2 separate regions of the Homo sapiens genome follow, and region 1 is linked to region 2. The links come from fine-mapping of genetic effects on gene expression. Tissue or cell type: whole blood. Region 2 holds a variant in brackets; the other region holds the start of a gene. All regions are shown on one strand. Distances are from middle to middle.

Region 1 (8,104 bases), 400 kb before region 2:
TCTAAATTTGGGCCAGCTATGGTTCAAGTGGCAGCAGCAGCCTGTGGCTGGTGACTGCGTACTGGGCCGCACAGGCTGCAATGCTCTCCCCCATCTCTTTGCAGGTTCATCTCATTCCTGTCTCTGCCCAGAGCCACCTTCCCTGGCCATGCTGTCTAAACCAGCCACCTCTCACTCCTAGCACTGCCTCCTTTTCTCCAGAGACTTTTCACTATCTGCTATTTCATTAGTTTTTTGTTTACTGTCTGCCCTCCTGCCTCCACCAGAGGCTATAAATCCCATGCAGGCAAAGACCTCTCTATCTGTCCTCTTTAGTGCTATATCCCCAGCAACTATGTGACATTCATGGGAGACTCTCCACAAGTATTTACTAGATGACATTGAAGATTCCAGATTCGTCATGTGTCATCTCTGAAGTCAATGTCCACTGAGTAGGATGTTGGAGGAGGGGCGAGAGGAAGGAGCATTATGTAAGACGTAAGGTGGGAGGAAGCTGGTCCAAATCCTCTGTGAGATGAAAGGCTTACTCCTGGATGTCAAGTTTAGGGCTGGGACTCCTGATGGCAGCATTTCCTTCCAACTGCGACCCGGTTGTGTGTAGTTTCAACCACTAGCTTATCTGGTTTGACGAGAAACCATCCACCGAGCAGCATTTCTGCCTGCTACCAGTAGATGGGGGCAGTGTCATTAAAAAAGTACACTGCAGTTTCTAACCTGTTTCCCAGCTCCACTTTGCTGACAGTCTGTTCTGGAGTTGCCCTGTCTCAGATCTGTGATGTGGACTCCCACATGGTGCTGCCAGCTCTCCCAGCTGAAGAAACGCAGCCTTAATTGTGATGTGTGCTTCAGGTGGGGTGGTCAGCTTCTCCATAAGGTGAGGCGGGCCCTAGAGGCTGGCACAGGTCCAGGCCACAAGGGGACCGCGGGTTCTCCTCCAGGGCATGACTCACACCAGGGTGTTCACACTGGCCTAGAACCTTTCTGTTCTCCCAAGGTTGGAAACAAGCTTATTAGGAAGGCGGTCAAGGCGTGACATAGCCTCGTCAACAGGAGCAGCTCTGTGGGCCTGTGCCGCTGGGACTGGCACTCCGGCTGCTGCTGAACAGCCCGGCCCACCAGTAGACTCCTCCCTGCCTCTGTGGGCCACTGGGGTCCATGCCACTGCATGAAGTGCAAAGTGGTGCCTCTCGCTGAGGCTGAGACCAGCCTTAGCTCCTGCTACTACTCCCTCTTCCTCTTCCCCAAACCCTCTTGAGCCTTGGAACTTTGAGCGATTTGGAAATGATCACTGCTTAAACATGATGTCTGCTTTTGTGGAGTTCAAGATTATGGACCTACTAAAGGTCACTGAACACAGCCTCATTTGATATGTTTTTACCAGAGTTTTTGTTCTTTAGAGCGTGTGCTATCTCCTTCATTGCCACTACAAGATAGCCTAGAAATTTAAGGAATTAATGTTGCCTTAAATGGCTTATTATAGTACTAACTACCTCATTCCAACAGCATGTCTGGTATCCCTCCATTAACCCATCAGTGCAGCTGAGGAGTAAGGCATTATAGCTCTGGTTGAAGGACCCTGTGGGGCCAGTTAGCCATGAAGAGGCCATTCCTTCCCTTGGAGTGTAAGAGAGCCAAAAAACACAATCAGGAAGGTTTATTCTTTGATTGTTACAAGCTCCATCTTAATTACTACATGTGTATGCATTTTCTTTCTTTCTTTCTTTCTTTTTTTTTGAGACGGTCTCACTGTGTCATCCAGGCTGGAGTGCAGTGGCGCGATCTCGGCTTACTGCAACCTCCGCCTCCCGGGTTCAAGGGATTCTCCTGCCTCAACTTCCCAAGTAGCTGGAATTACAGGCGTGCACCACCATGCCCAGCTAATTTTTGTATTTTTAGTAGAGATAGAGTTTTGCCATGTTGGCCAGGCTGGTCTTGAACTCCTGACCTCAAGTGATCCACCCGCCTCAGCCTCCCAAAATGCTGGGATTACAGGCGTGAGCCACCGCGCCTGGCCTTATGCATGCATTTTCATGCTTCTGTAATTTTGCTACCCTCTATACCCATAAAGCCCTTCAGTCTTTTCCTATTTGGATAAATTCTGTTTATCTTTCAAAGGTCACCACCTCCATGAAGCCTTTTCTGATTTTCCTAGTCACAATGAATGCTTTCTTCCTCCAGCTTCTCATAGTGCTTTGAGTCTTTCTCATAGCATTTAGCCCACTCTGTCTTCTTGTCCACATGCATATCTTGCTCATTAATTCTAGTTACTGAGTGCCTATTTGTACCATATTGGGGATACAGGGTACTTGCAGAGAACCCACAGTCCAGTGGAAACCCAGAGTTGGGTAGAGTTTACAACCTTCATTGGACTAGGAGGCAGGAATCCCGTCTGCTCCTAGCTCAGGGCCGGGCACCAAAAGGTAGTCAGAAAAGTAACTTAAATGGAAACTCAGCAAAGTAACTTAAATGGAAACTCAGCATCAACGACTCTGAGAAAATTGAGTTAGATTTCAAAGGAAGGTTAAAAGTTGGCAAAGGTAGAGGGTGGGCAGGGGTCAGTTTTATTTTGTTGGAATATCCCAAGGGAATTTCCAGGTATGGTTGCAGTGACTCTGGCATGAAGACCTGGCGTGGAAGCCAGAGACATCAAAGATCCCCAGGGGACTGGGATGGTGGGAAGGGATCACTGTCCTCCTCCAGGACCAGGCTGGGAGTTTGATGCAGGATCATTCGGACATTGATCCCACTCCAGCCATACGTCTTTTTGCTTTGACTGACCATACCATAGAGGCAAGCAGGCTGTTTCAAGGGCCCAGAAATGAGTTACTGGCTAAGGGTCAAGCCGGTCAGAAGACAACTACACTGTCCAGTTGGCACATGATAAAAGCAATACTGATGCAATTATCACTCCCATTGGAGGGTGGCCTGGCATTATTTGTCACTTAAATAAAAAACGTCATTTGAATTTTTACTAGGAATTCTCATCCAAAATATGTCAATGATAGAATGAAACCGCATGACCGGCTTGCCAAAGTAAACTAAGTCCTAACGACACACGAGCATTAGAAATTGTGTGTATCTCAGAAAACTGCTCTACCCTGAGGCCTGACAGCAGGAGGGGGTCTTGCCGGGGTTCGGACGGGGAAAAGCCTTATTCATTGACGGTATTCTACAGTAGTCACCCCAATCATGTTACCACTCACCTCACTTTACACTGTCTGCTGCTTACCTGTGAATACGAGCTCAAGATAGTGAGAGATAAGCCTTGGTGTTTTCTGTGCCTCTCTCTTTTCTTTAATGGAATACAATTCTGAAAATAATATTAAACAGCACCCAGTCATTCTCAGAAAGCCGTCACACAAGGAAGAAACCACTATTTTCCCAAACTTTTTGTACAGGAAATTATAATCTGTAATCTCATCTTCTGCCACCTCCCTCAGAAGTTTCGATCTAGACATACATGTATTCAGTGAGTGGCAATTCAGCCTGGGGGGTGGAGTGTCAGGATTCAAATCTTTTTGCTGCGGGGTAACCCCAGGTCCCAGTGATTTCCATAGACAAAAGAGATGCTGGTAAATTTGGGATGTAATTGGAGGATTGGACCGGTCTCCCCGCTCCCTCGACCAATGGCTGTCACGCGGTCCCTTTAAGAAACCAGGAATCCGCCCGGAGTCGGAGCCCAAAACAGATCCTCTTCTCTGCTCCTCCCCTGTCCCCGCGCGGCGAATGGTTCGCGCCGGCCTATATTTACCCGAGATCTTCCTCCCGGACGGCAAGGATGTGAGGCAGGCGAGCCGGACGCCGCTCGCAGCACCGGAGAGGGCGCACTGCAAAGGCGGGCAGCAGACCGTGGAGAGCCCGGGAGCGGAGCTGGACACCGCCTCGGAGGGAAGAAATGAGGTAGCGGCGGTTCCCGGACCCGGCCATGCCCGTCCCCTGTTCTCGGAGCCCAGCGCCGTCTCGGCCAGGCCAGCCCGGACACTGAGCGGGCCGAGCGCGAGTCCCCGGCGTCCGGCGGAGCGAAGATGCAGTGAGTCCCCGCGGGACTGCTGCGCGGGGCCCGCCGCGGCCAGCCGGACCCAGCATCCGACCGCACTTTGGGCGAGCTGCTGACTTGAGACCAGCCCAAACGGGGGGCTTTCCATCTCCAGCACCCCTCGGAGGTGGGGAGCACCGGCCCCTAGGCACACTCGCTGTAGAGTTTCCGCGGGTTTTGGCCCCAGTCCTGAGGGTTGTGTGTGTTAGGGGACCCACCTCACGTTCGCCGAGGAGTTCCTGCATATTCTTGCACCATCCCGGGTGCTGTTGCTGGGGCTCTCTTTATTTGCACGCGCGCTTCTAGCTTTTTTCCTGACATTTTCCACTCTACGCTCGTTCTTTCTCCCTTGCATTTTGTTGCTTGCCTGAGACTCTTTGCTCTCGCCCTTGCCCAGGCTGGGGTAATTCTGTGTGCGCGCGTGTCTCCCCCGCACCAACCTTTTTTGCACACTCGAAGCTGAATATTTTCTTTTTTAGAGAATTTACCCGCACCTCCTGCGGGGTTCCTAAGCACTCTCTCTGCTCCCCTCCCCCCAACTCCCTACCACAGGGCCGCTCCCAGTAGTTTTATTCTTCGATCTTGCCCGGGCCGAGCCTGGCAGGGGCCGGTGGCTCAGCGGGCCTCGCACCCGGCGCTCCGCCGCCGCCGCCGCCCAGCTGCGCCGGGGCGCCCTCCGGAGATGCTGCCGTGGAAGAAGCACAAGTTCGAGCTGCTGGCCGAGGCGCCGCCGCGGCAGGCGTCCAAGCCCAAGGGCTACGCTGTGAGCCTGCACTACTCGGCGCTCAGCTCGCTGGCGCGGGCGTGCCCCGAAGGCGCGCTTAGCCGGGTGGGCAGCATGTTCCGCTCCAAGCGCAAGAAGCTGCACATCACTAGCGAGGACCCAACTTACACCGTGCTCTACCTGGGCAATGCCACCACCATCCAGGCGCGCGGCGACGGCTGCACCGACCTTGCTGTGGGCAAGATCTGGAGCAAGAGCGAGGCGGGCCGTCAGGGCACCAAGATGAAGCTGACGGTGAGTGCGCAGGGTATCCGCATGGTGCACGCCGAGGAGCGCGCGCTGCGCCGCCCGGGCCACCTCTACCTGCTGCACCGCGTCACCTACTGCGTGGCCGACGCGCGGCTGCCCAAGGTCTTCGCCTGGGTGTACCGGCACGAGCTGAAGCACAAGGCCGTGATGCTGCGCTGCCACGCCGTGCTGGTGTCCAAGCCCGAAAAGGCGCAGGCCATGGCCCTGCTGCTCTACCAGACGTCGGCCAACGCGCTGGCGGAATTTAAACGCCTCAAGCGGCGGGACGACGCGCGTCACCAGCAGCAGGAGCTGGTGGGCGCACACACCATCCCGCTAGTGCCGCTGCGCAAGCTGCTCCTACACGGACCCTGCTGCTATAAACCGCCGGTGGAGCGCAGCCGCAGCGCGCCCAAGCTTGGCTCCATCACCGAGGACCTGCTCGGCGAACAGCTGGAGCAGGAGCTGCAGGAGGAAGAGGAAGAGGAGCAACCCGAGGGCTGCCCGGAGGAGGAGGAGAACCGTGCGGCAGAGGGAGATCCAGCAGAGGAGGAGGCCGAGGCGCAGCGTGCGCTAGTGGTCGCCATGCACTTTGAGTGCGGGGACTTGTTGGATACTCTGGAGAATGGCCGTGGGGAGGCGCTAGGAGGCGGCGGGGGCTCCCTGGGCCCGGGGGCCGGGCCGCCGCCTCTGCTGCTGGGCAGCGCCTCCGACATGAAGGCTGAGCTGTCGCAACTTATTAGCGACCTGGGCGAGCTCAGCTTCGGCAACGACGTGCGCACCCTGCAGGCCGACTTGCGGGTGACGCGCCTGCTGTCAGGCGACAGCACGGGCAGCGAGAGCTCCATCGAGGGCGGGGGCCCTGACGCCACCTCCGCCACCGCCGGGGACTCGTCCCGCCAGGCCGACGGCGCCAGTGCAGACGAGCCCCACTCGGGCTGAGCTCCTCCGCGCGTCGCCGGCGCTCCACCGTGGCTACCCATCCGTGGTCCCGACAACCTCCCTGTCCCTTGCCCGCCCCCAGGAAGGGGGAAATGGGGCATTTGGGGCCCAGACCTACACTTGGAGCCCAGGTCCAGCGTTCCCCCGACCGCTTTCCCCTACCTCCCGGCCCCCGCTCCCGCCCCAGCACTTTTGGCTCTGTTGCGCGTGGGGATGCGGGGAGATTTGAGAGGGGAAAACCCCGCCAGGAGGGAGAGAGAGGCACCCCTCTGGGATGCGGGTGAGGGAAGGTTGGCTGAAGTTCCTAGTCTCAGGCCGTAGGTGCCTGGCCAGTTTCCTGTTTGTGGGGCAGCTGGGGCCTGAGGAGGAGGGGTTCACTTCCTCCTCCCACCCCCTGGGAGCGGCCCTGCGCTGTCACTGACATCTCATTAAAAAAAAAAAAAAATTTGCTCTCAAGGTGTTTGAGGCTTTAATGCAACCCTTTAGCCCTTGGTTCTTTTTGGTGCAAGAATTCTGGCTGTTTACCTCAGACTCAGACCCCTGAAATGTTGCCAAATTCTTCAAATAACTGTTTGGGGGGTGGGGGGAGATGAAAGAGAGTCGCGTTTTGTTTACAGTTAAAGACATCCAATATCTTAAAAAGGAGTTTTCCTTTAGAAACACACACACCCTTCCTCTTGCTCAAAAGATCTCACTCCATGATACTGTGTAAAATATTTTTGCACTGTTGTGAAGTATTTTTGACTTTTTTCTGTACATAACTGTGTTCTCAGAGCTGAATGTTTATATCTTTTGCTGTGCAAAAGAAACATGTAAAATGTTGTTCAGTTGTATATACAGAAATGTGTATAAAACATTTTGTTATTTTTTAAAAGTAGCACTGTTCTGGTTCTGTTTGCACGCCAGTGGGGAGAGAATAAAGAGGAAAATTTAACAGAACAGGTGAGCGTCTGGAACTGCTGCGTTGGGGTGGGAGAGGCTGTGTCTGACCCTGGGATGGTGTCATAAGACAGTCTTTGGCCTTTCCTGTGCTTGGAGAGAATTAGGGAAGGAAGGTCCACTTTATGCGCCATCTGGGGCCTTCCTGGACCTCCACAACTCTGGGTGCTGTGTCTGGGACCAGCCTTTTCTTGTATTATCCTGTATTTTTCAGTAATTAAGTTGTGTGATCTTTTTCTGGTCTTTTGGAGAGGCCACGGTGAGTTCCATATCGCACTCCCAGACCTGTGAGGTTATTTATGGAGGAGTGACTTCCAGATCTGCTGAGATTTTACTACCTCCTTCTGTGGGCCATGCTAATAATCAAGCGTAAGGAGACTACCTTATCTTTTCCTTTACAAACAGCTCAGGGAGCTTTAAAGATGAACTAGAAACCCAAAGAGGAGTTCTCTGAGGAGTGGGGCCATCTCTGTTTTTCCTGGGAGGAAAACCAAGGAGAGAAAAGTTGACAAGTTCCGATCCTGGTGTGAGTGAGTCACGGTGCAGGTGGGTGGGTGGCTGGGCAGGCTGCAGAGCCCATTTCCTTCCCTTCTACAACCCAGTGTGACCCAGTTGGGGGATGGCGCGAAGGTCGAGGGGGAGAGGAGCTGTTAGAGCGCGGTATGGGTGTGCATGTTTCAGCGCTTTCATGCTTTCTGTGTGTTTGTTTCTGTTGTAAACTCCAAACAGATGTCTCTAGTTTGGCTACACCCGATCAGCTGGAAGTTGTAATAAGATGCTGCCAAAACTGTGCCTTCTGCAAATTATATTTTCCTTTTGCCCCTTGAGGCCTCTCTTCCTGTGTTGCAGAAATGGATCTCACTCCTGGCCTTCCCTGGTGTCCTGAGGCCACTTTGCTTTGTTTTCATCATAAATATGTTCTGAGCAGCTAGACCCAGAAATCCTAAGGAGTCTGGAATTCACTGGAACCATAGAGGAAAGAGGGGTGAAAGATTTTCTTCCTAATTAACAGGAATGGTTCAGGCATAGAACTATCTTTAAAAAAGAAAAGCAAAGGGGGCGAGTGGAAAATATGTGTGTGTGTGTGTGTGTGTGTGTGTGTGTGTATATATATATATATTTTTTTTTTTTTTTTGAGACGGAGTTTCACTCTTGTCACCCAGGCTGGAGTGCAA
Region 2 (8,104 bases):
CTCTCCTCAGGCTTTCCTGACACCAGAGGTCCTTCTCCTCATCTCCTCCTCAGAAGTCAGGGTCATCCCTACATCCAGGCTGGCAATAAATATTTGTTCAAGCCTATTATGGACAAGCACCATGCCCAGAAAAATGACGAGGAGGAGGAGAAGAACACCTCTCCCCATTCACAGGAATCATTACCCAGCTATATGTACATTATCTCAATTCCTCACAACTACCTACGGTCAGTATTATTTCCATTTTACGGACGAGGAAATGGAGGCCCAGAGAGTTACTGCGCCTGGCGGTGCACAGTGGCTCATGCCGCTAATCCCAGCACTTTGGGAGGCCGAGGAAAGCAGATCACTTGCAGTCAGGAGTTTGAGACCAGCCCGGCCAACACAGCAAAACTCCATCTCTACTAAAAATACAAAAATCATCCAGGCGCGGTGGCAGGCACCCGTAGTCCCAGCTCCTCAAGGTGCTGAGGCAGGAGCATGGTTTGAACCCAGGAGGCAGAGGTTGCAGCGAGCCGAGATTGCACCACGGCACTCCAGCCTGGGTGACAGTGAGTGAAAATCGGTCTCAAAAAAAAAAAAGTGATGTGCTGATGGTCACACATTCTGCCTTTTGCTGCATTAACTCAGAAAGAGCTCATCTCCTGTGCTTTCACCAAGTTCAGAGCTGGAGTGAGAAATAACATCACAGAAAGGATTCCTAGCGGGCTTTGGTTCTCTGGGAAGGTCCGGCTGGTAAGGCAGAAAAGCAGAAAAGCAGAAAACAGGCTATGAGGTCTGAATTGCATCAGGCCAGTTCCAACCACAGAGCAGGCTGTGGGTGAGGATGGGAAGATGGCAGGGATCAGCTAGGCTGCTCCCTGCCCCAGGGATACTTAGAGGCAGGAGGCCCGATTCAAGTCAGGGCCCTGGCCCTAGACCCAAAATCTTCTCGCTGAAAAAAACCTATAGAGATCACCCAGGAAAATGGAGCATGGAAGCCACCTGGGCAAGGCTGCCCAGCTAGGACATAAAGTCCACCCTCGCTAGGGCACCACAAGACTGCCTGCAGCCTTTCCCACCAGCGAGATGGCAGCCTCAGTGTAATGTATTTCATGCAACCCAGATTTTGAGCAAAGTAAACCGTACTCTTTTCAGAGGTCCAATTCTTTCCCTAAAATACTTAGGTCAGCCCTTGCAGCCTGCTGTTCTTCACTTGCTGTATTTTAGTGAGTTAAACCACCCAAGGATGTTCTAGGCAAAACTCCCACCACTACACACGATCACAGGACTCCATCGGCCCCAGAAACCCAACCCCAGGGATTCATTCATTCAATTAGGCTTCAGGGTCCAGGATGTGAAGAGCACAGTGAATCACACAGACACCCTCATCCTGGAGAGCCCACTCTGATGGCAGGACCATTCTCCATGCTGGGGACAGTACACCTTGGCTCTTGGCAGGGGAGCTTCTCTAATGGTGCCCAAGACAGCAGCTCCTGCCAGTTGCAGAAGCTGAGGGTAGGAAAGGGAGGCCTAGCAAGGCAGCCACTTCCAGACCCTCGAAATGCCAAAAACCTCCAGAGTGTGTGGTTCATCTGAGCAGCCGCAGAGTCTTCACGTGGACGTAACCTTCTCCCAAGCAAGGATGACCCCCATGGGAGTTACAGTGCTCTAAATCCTCTCCTTGCACGAGGTCAAGTAGGAAAAGAAATGATTGCCATATGAAAGTTCAAGTTGGGGACAAAAGGGGCTGAGTGAGGTCCCTGGAGAACAGTTCAGAGGAGCACGGGCTTTGGAGAGAGAATATCTGGATTTGCCCTTTGGCTCAACACCCCTTCCGACCTCTCCAAACCTCTTGGGAATGGTGACTCAGTACCAGTGTCACAGTCCTGGTCCCCACCCCTGGCCCTGCCGCTCCGGCTCCAAGCTGGTTCAGAAAATACGCAACTCACCCAAGGTGTCCAGGTCTGGCATCTCTGCCACTCTCCCATCCCTGGTTCCCTAGAATGGAGCCTCCATCCCCATGTCTAAGCATGCCAGCGCATTTCACCAGAGACCGCGGTGGGAGGGGGGAGTCCACCCAGTTCTACTCGAGAAGCACAGCAGTGCGGTCAGAGAGAAAGGAGCAGGAGCTTAGCTCCTGTGCTCCCTCACAGCTCCAAGAGCCCAGTCATCCTGCGGGCCGCGGTGGGCAGCCGCGAGCCACAACCGTGTCTGGTGACAATCCTAGTAGAGTTCCAGACTGATGCGGCGAGACCACTCCATTCCACCAGGGGCTGGCCCAGAGTTTGGTTCAAAACCGTCAGGTCGCCACTAGCCTCACTGTCCTTCGACTGTGGTGACAGAGCCACTGCTCTGAGCACTCACCTCATACCCAACACAGGAAAGAGGTGCCTCAAAAGCTTGCTGGGCTAGCCTCCTCCCCCACCCCGAGGCTAGCCCCTGAGGCAGCTGCCCCCACTCACCTCTGTCCTCTGTGCTGTCAGGCCTTGCGGAGGCCAACACTCACTATGACTCGGTGGTGCCCGAGCTGCAGAAGACCCAAACTTGACTTTTCAAGCTTCTCTTTCAAGGACTGCCTGGGGCCTGTGGACAGGGGCAGCTGCATTAAAGGCCATTTGTACACACAGAGCACACCTGGGCAAAACAGACCTGGTTTCCAGCACCCCCAAACACCCAGCTTGCCCCCAGCCTGCCCCACAGCTGGCCGCGCTGTGTGCCTCGAAGCCTTACAGCTCAGCACTCTACAGCACTGTCCTTGCTTTTAAATTTTTCTTTTTTTTTAAGGGAAGAAAATCCACAAAACAATCTGTCCTTCTGACAGGCCAGCTCAGATTCCTATCGTGCTAGGTTGGATCAAGGAGCATCATTACGACGGCTTTATCAGAACTGTCTGCTTCAGAAAATAAACAACTTATCAAAGGTAGCCAGGTCTGGCGTCTCGGCCGCTCCCCTACCCCTGCTTCCCTGGAACAGAGGCTGTTTCCCTGTCTCCATGCATGTGAATGCATTTCAGCAGAGACCACAGACCTGTAGGGGAGAAGTCTATCCAGTTGTATTCAACAAACACAGTGGTTAGGGGCAGGGGCTGTGGGGTCAGAGGCCTGACTATGAGCCAGGGCCAGTTTAGGATGGGCCCTGTGAGGAAGGTCAGGGAAGCTGACCTTGCTGCTAAAGGGAACAAAAGGTTTGAAGCGAGGTATGAGGAAGGTCACTCTGGCTGGGTGGGCACTGGCATGGAGGAGGAAGGGCTGGAAGCAGCAAGACCAGGCAGGAGGATGCTTTGGTGATGGGGGGGAGGGTGGCAGTGCCAAGGATGGAGACAAGCAAAGGGTTTAGGAGATACTTAGCAGGTGTATGACTAGCTCTAAGAACGGATGCATGTAGGTGATGAAGGGGGACAAAGAGCTCCGGGTCCTGGCTTCTGTCTTGAGCATTCTGGCTATGGGGTCAGTGGCAGTGGCTGTTCTAATCATGATCAGTGACTTGCATGATGACACTGGCCAGGCCCCTCCCCGATACCTCCCACCTGTACCACAAGGAGGGAGAGTGGCCTCCTAGGCCTTCCCAGCTCCAGGTCGCCTTGGTGGCAGCACTGTGGTCACCTCCTCCTGCCTCGGTGCAGCTTCTCTAAACTCAGGGCAGGCTGCGGGGAGCAGTAAGGGGGCTGGGAGGCACTGCCCGTGTGGCCCGTTGACACGCCACCGTCTCTCCAGGTGGCCTGCAGCAAACCCGCCTTTCCTGCTCCTCTGGACACAGCCGGCCTTGCCCTTGCCAGGCTGCGTGTGGCCCTGGAGCTCCTCTTCCGCCCTCTTCCCGTTTGTACCCACTCTCCAGGGAGACATTTTTCCCCTTTAAACTGGAAATGTGCTCCCTGGCTCCTCCTCAGATCCCTTGTGCTTGAGTTGCTTCTCCAGGCCTTCCAGATAAATCTCTTGAAAATCTGCTGTGCTTGGGGTGCTCCCTGTGAAAGCAGAAAAGCATCTGAGCTACCCTCCCTGTCTCTCCCCACTGCGCGCTCTATTCAGGTATCAACACAGGTATGCCTGGAGCTGGTAGAGCACAGAGACAAGGCAGTCAGGCTCCCTGCACGCAGGGCCTGCAACTTCTCAGCTCTCTCCGGATAGGGCACTGGGGCCTGGGCTTACCCAGAACAGCCAACTGGAATTTGAATGAACATAAAGAGTGGAATTTTTAACAGCCAGATCAAAGCGGGCATTAAAATTAGATGCTACTGGAGGAGCCAAGATGGCCGAATAGGAACAGCTCTGGTGTACAGCTCCCAGCGTGAGCGACGCAGAAGACGGTGATTTCTGCATTTCCATCTGAGGTACCGGGTTCATCTCACTAGGGAGTGCCAGACAGTGGGCGCAGGTCAGTGGGTGCGCGCACCGTGCGCGAGCCGAAGCAGGGCGAGGCAAAGCCTCACTTGGGAAGCGCAAGGGGTCAGGGAGTTCCCTTTCAAAGGGAGTCAAAGAAAGGGGTGACAGACGCACCTGGAAAATCGGGTCACTCCCACCTGAATACTGCGCTTTTCCAACGGGCTTAAAAAACGGCGCACCACGAGATTACATCCCGCACCTGGCTCGGAGGGTCCTACCCCACGGAGTCTCGCTGATTGCCAGCACAGCGGTCTGAGATCAAACTGCAAGGTGGCAGCGAGGCTGGGGGAGGGGCGCCCGCCATTGCCCAGGCTTGATTAGGTAAACAAAGCAGC[CG/C]GGAAGCTCGAACTGGGTGGAGCCCACCACAGCTCAAGGAGGCCTGCCTGCCTCTGTAGGCTCCACCTCTGGGGGCAGGGCACAGACAAACAAAAAGACAGCAGTAACCTCTGCAGACTTAAAGGTCCCTGTCTGACAGCTTTGAAGAGAGCAGTGGTTCTCCCAGCACGCAGCTGGAGATCTGAGAACGGGCAGACTGCCTCCTCAAGTGGGTCCCTGACCCCTGACCCCCGAGCAGCCTAACTGGGAGGCACCCCCCAGCGGGGCACCTCACAGGGCCGGGTACTCCAACAGACCTGCAGCTGAGGGTCCTGTCTGTTAGAAGGAAAACTAACAAACAGAAAGGACATCCACACCAAAAACCCATCTGTACATCACCATCATCAAAGACCAAAAGTAGATAAAACCACAAAGATGGGGAAAAAACAGAACAGAAAAACTGGAAACTCTAAAAAGCAGAGCACCTCTCCTCCTCCAAAGGAACGCAGTTCCTCACCAGCAACAGAACAAAGCTGGATGGAGAATGACTTTGACGAGCTGAGAGAAGAAGGCTTCAGACGATCAAATTACTCTGAGCTACGGGAGGACATTCAAACCAAAGGCAAAGAAGTTGAAAACTTTGAAAAAAATTTAGAAGAATATATAACTAGAATAACCAATACAGAGAAGTGCTTAAAGGAGCTGATGGAGCTGAAAACCAAGGCTCGAGAACTACGTGAAGAATGCAGAAGCCTCAGGAGCCGATGCAATCAACTGGAAGAAAGGGTATCAGCAATGGAAGATGAAATGAATGAAATGAAGCAAGAAGGGAAGTTTAGAGAAAAAACAATAAAAAGAAATGAGCAAAGCCTCCAGGAAATATGGGACTATGTGAAAAGACCAAATCTACGTCTGATTGGTGTACCTGAAAGTGATGGGGAGAATGGAACCAAGTTGGAAAACACTCTGCAGGATATTATCCAGGAGAACTTCCCCAATCTAGCAAGGCAGGCCAACGTTCAGATTCAGGAAATACAGAGAACGCCACAAAGATACTCCTCGAGAAGAGCAACTCCAAGACACATAATTGTCAGATTTACCAAAGTTGAAATGAAGGAAAAAATGTTAAGGGCAGCCAGAGAGAAAGGTCGGGTTACCCACAAAGGGAAGCCCATCAGACTAACAGTGGATCTCTCGGCAGAAACCCTACAAGCCAGAAGAGAGTGGGGGCCAATATTCAACATTCTTAAAGAAAAGGATTTTCAACGCAGAATTTCATATCCAGCCAAACTAAGCTTCATAAGTGAAGGAGAAATAAAATACTTTACAGACAAACAAATGCTGAGAGATTTTGTCACCACCAGGCCTGCCCTAAAAGAGCTCCTGAAGGAAGCGCTAAACATGGAAGGGAACAACCGGTACCAGCCGCTGCAAAATCATGCCAAAATGTAAAGACCATCGAGACTAGGAAGAAACTGCATCAACTAACGAGCACAATAACCAGCTAGCATCATAATGACAGGATCAAATTCACACATAACAATATTAACTTTAAATGTAAATGGACTAAATGCTCCAATTAAAAGACACAGACTGGCAAATTGGATAAAGAGTCAAGACCCATCAGTGTGCTGTATTCAGGAAACCCATCTCACATGCAGAGACACACATAGGCTCAAAATAAAAGGATGGAGGAAGATCTACCAAGCCAATGGAAAACAAAAAAAGGCAGGGGTTGCAATCCTAGTCTCTGATGAAACAGACTTTAAAGCAACAAAGATAAAAAGAGACAAAGAAGGCCATTACATAATGGTAAAGGGATCAATTCAACAAGAAGAGCTAACTATCCTAAATATATATGCACCCAATACAGGAGCACCAAGATTCATAAAGCAAGTCCTGAGTGACCTACAAAGAGACTTAGACTCCCACACATTAATAATGGGAGACTTTAACACCCCACTGTCAACATTAGACAGATCAAGGAGACAGAAAGTCAACAAGGATACCCAGGAATTGAACTCAGCTCTGCACCAAGCGGACCTAATAGACATCTACAGAACTCTCCACCCCAAATCAACAGAATATACATTTTTTTCAGCACCACACCACACCTACTCCAAAATTGACCACATACTTGGAAGTAAAGCTCTCCTCAGCAAATGTAAAAGAACAGAAATTATAACAAACTATCTCTCAGACCACAGTGCAATCAAACTAGAACTCAGGATTAAGAATCTCACTCAAAACCACTCAACTACACGGAAACTGAACAACCTGCTCCTGAATGACTACTGGGTACATAACGAAATGAAGGCAGAAATAAAGATGTTCTTTGAAACCAACAAGAACAAAGACACAACATACCAGAATCTCTGGGACGCATTCAAAGCAGTGTGTAGAGGGACATTTATAGCACTAAATGCCACAAGAGAAAGCAGGAAAGATCCAAAATTGACACCCTAACATCACAATTAAAAGAACTAGAAAAGCAAGAGCAAACACATTCAAAAGCTAGCAGAAGGCAAGAAATAACTAAAATCAGAGCAGAACTGAAGGAAATAGAGACACAAAAAACCCTTCAAAAAATTAATGAATCCAGGAGCTGGTTTTTTGAAAGGATCAACAAAATTGATAGACCACTAGCAAGACTAATAAAGAAAAAAAGAGAGAAGAATCAAATAGACGCAATAAAAAATGATAAAGGGGATATCACCACCGATCTCACAGAAATACAAACTACCATCAGAGAATACTACAAACACCTCTACACAAATAAACTAGAAAACCTAGAAGAAATGGATAAATTCCTCGACGTATACACTCTCCCAAGACTAAACCAGGAAGAAGTTGAATCTCTGAATAGACCAATAACAGGAGCTGAAATTGTGGCAATAATCAATAGCTTACCAATCAAAAAGAGTCCAGCACCAGATGGATTCACAGCCGAATTCTACCAGAGGTACAAGGAGGAACTGGTACCATTCCTTCTGAAACTATTTCAATCAATAGAAAAAGAGGGAATCCTCCCTAACTCATTTTATGAGGCCAGCATCATTCTGATACCAAAGCCAGGCAGAGACACAACAAAAAAAGAGAATTTTAGACCAATATCCTTGATGAACATTGATGCAAAAATCCTCAATAAAATACTGGCAAAACGAATCCAGCAGCACATCAAAAAGCTTATTCACCATGATCAAGTGGGCTTCATCCCTGGGATGCAAGGCTGGTTCAATATACGCAAATCAATAAATGTAATCCAGCAGGTAAACAGAGCCAAAGACAAAAACCACATGATTATCTCAATAGATGCAGAAAAAGCCTTTGACAAAATTCAACAACCCTTCATGCTAAAAACTCTCAATAAATTAGGTATTGATGGGATGTATTTCAAAATAATAAGAGCTATCTATGACAAACCCACA

What was found. PIP is the estimated chance that this variant, and not a neighbour inherited with it, causes the effect.
Region 1: FAM43A starts here. The variant in region 2 is fine-mapped to the expression of FAM43A in whole blood (INTERVAL, PIP above 0.99).

What each region holds. Positions count from the first base shown.
Region 1 is chr3:194,682,109-194,690,212 of GRCh38, forward strand. It overlaps FAM43A (family with sequence similarity 43 member A), which reads left to right and starts at 3,775. Exons shown (of 1, transcript NM_153690.5): 1 at 3,775-6,929. The coding sequence starts at 4,719. The coding sequence ends at 5,990. It overlaps LOC124909474, which reads right to left and starts at 4,801. Exons shown (of 3, transcript XM_047449428.1): 1 at 3,752-4,801; 2 at 3,230-3,310. The coding sequence starts at 4,145. RefSeq lists enhancers at 770-819, 3,505-3,864, 4,616-5,121, 5,122-5,625, 7,472-7,591 and silencers at 4,605-4,794, 5,625-5,924.
Region 2 is chr3:195,083,458-195,091,561 of GRCh38, forward strand. All of the region lies in intron 3 of XXYLT1 (xyloside xylosyltransferase 1), which reads right to left. Among named protein-coding and RNA genes, the nearest start is that of XXYLT1-AS1, 7.1 kb to the right of the region's middle. The variant CG/C (reference allele first, on the strand shown) is at 4,697.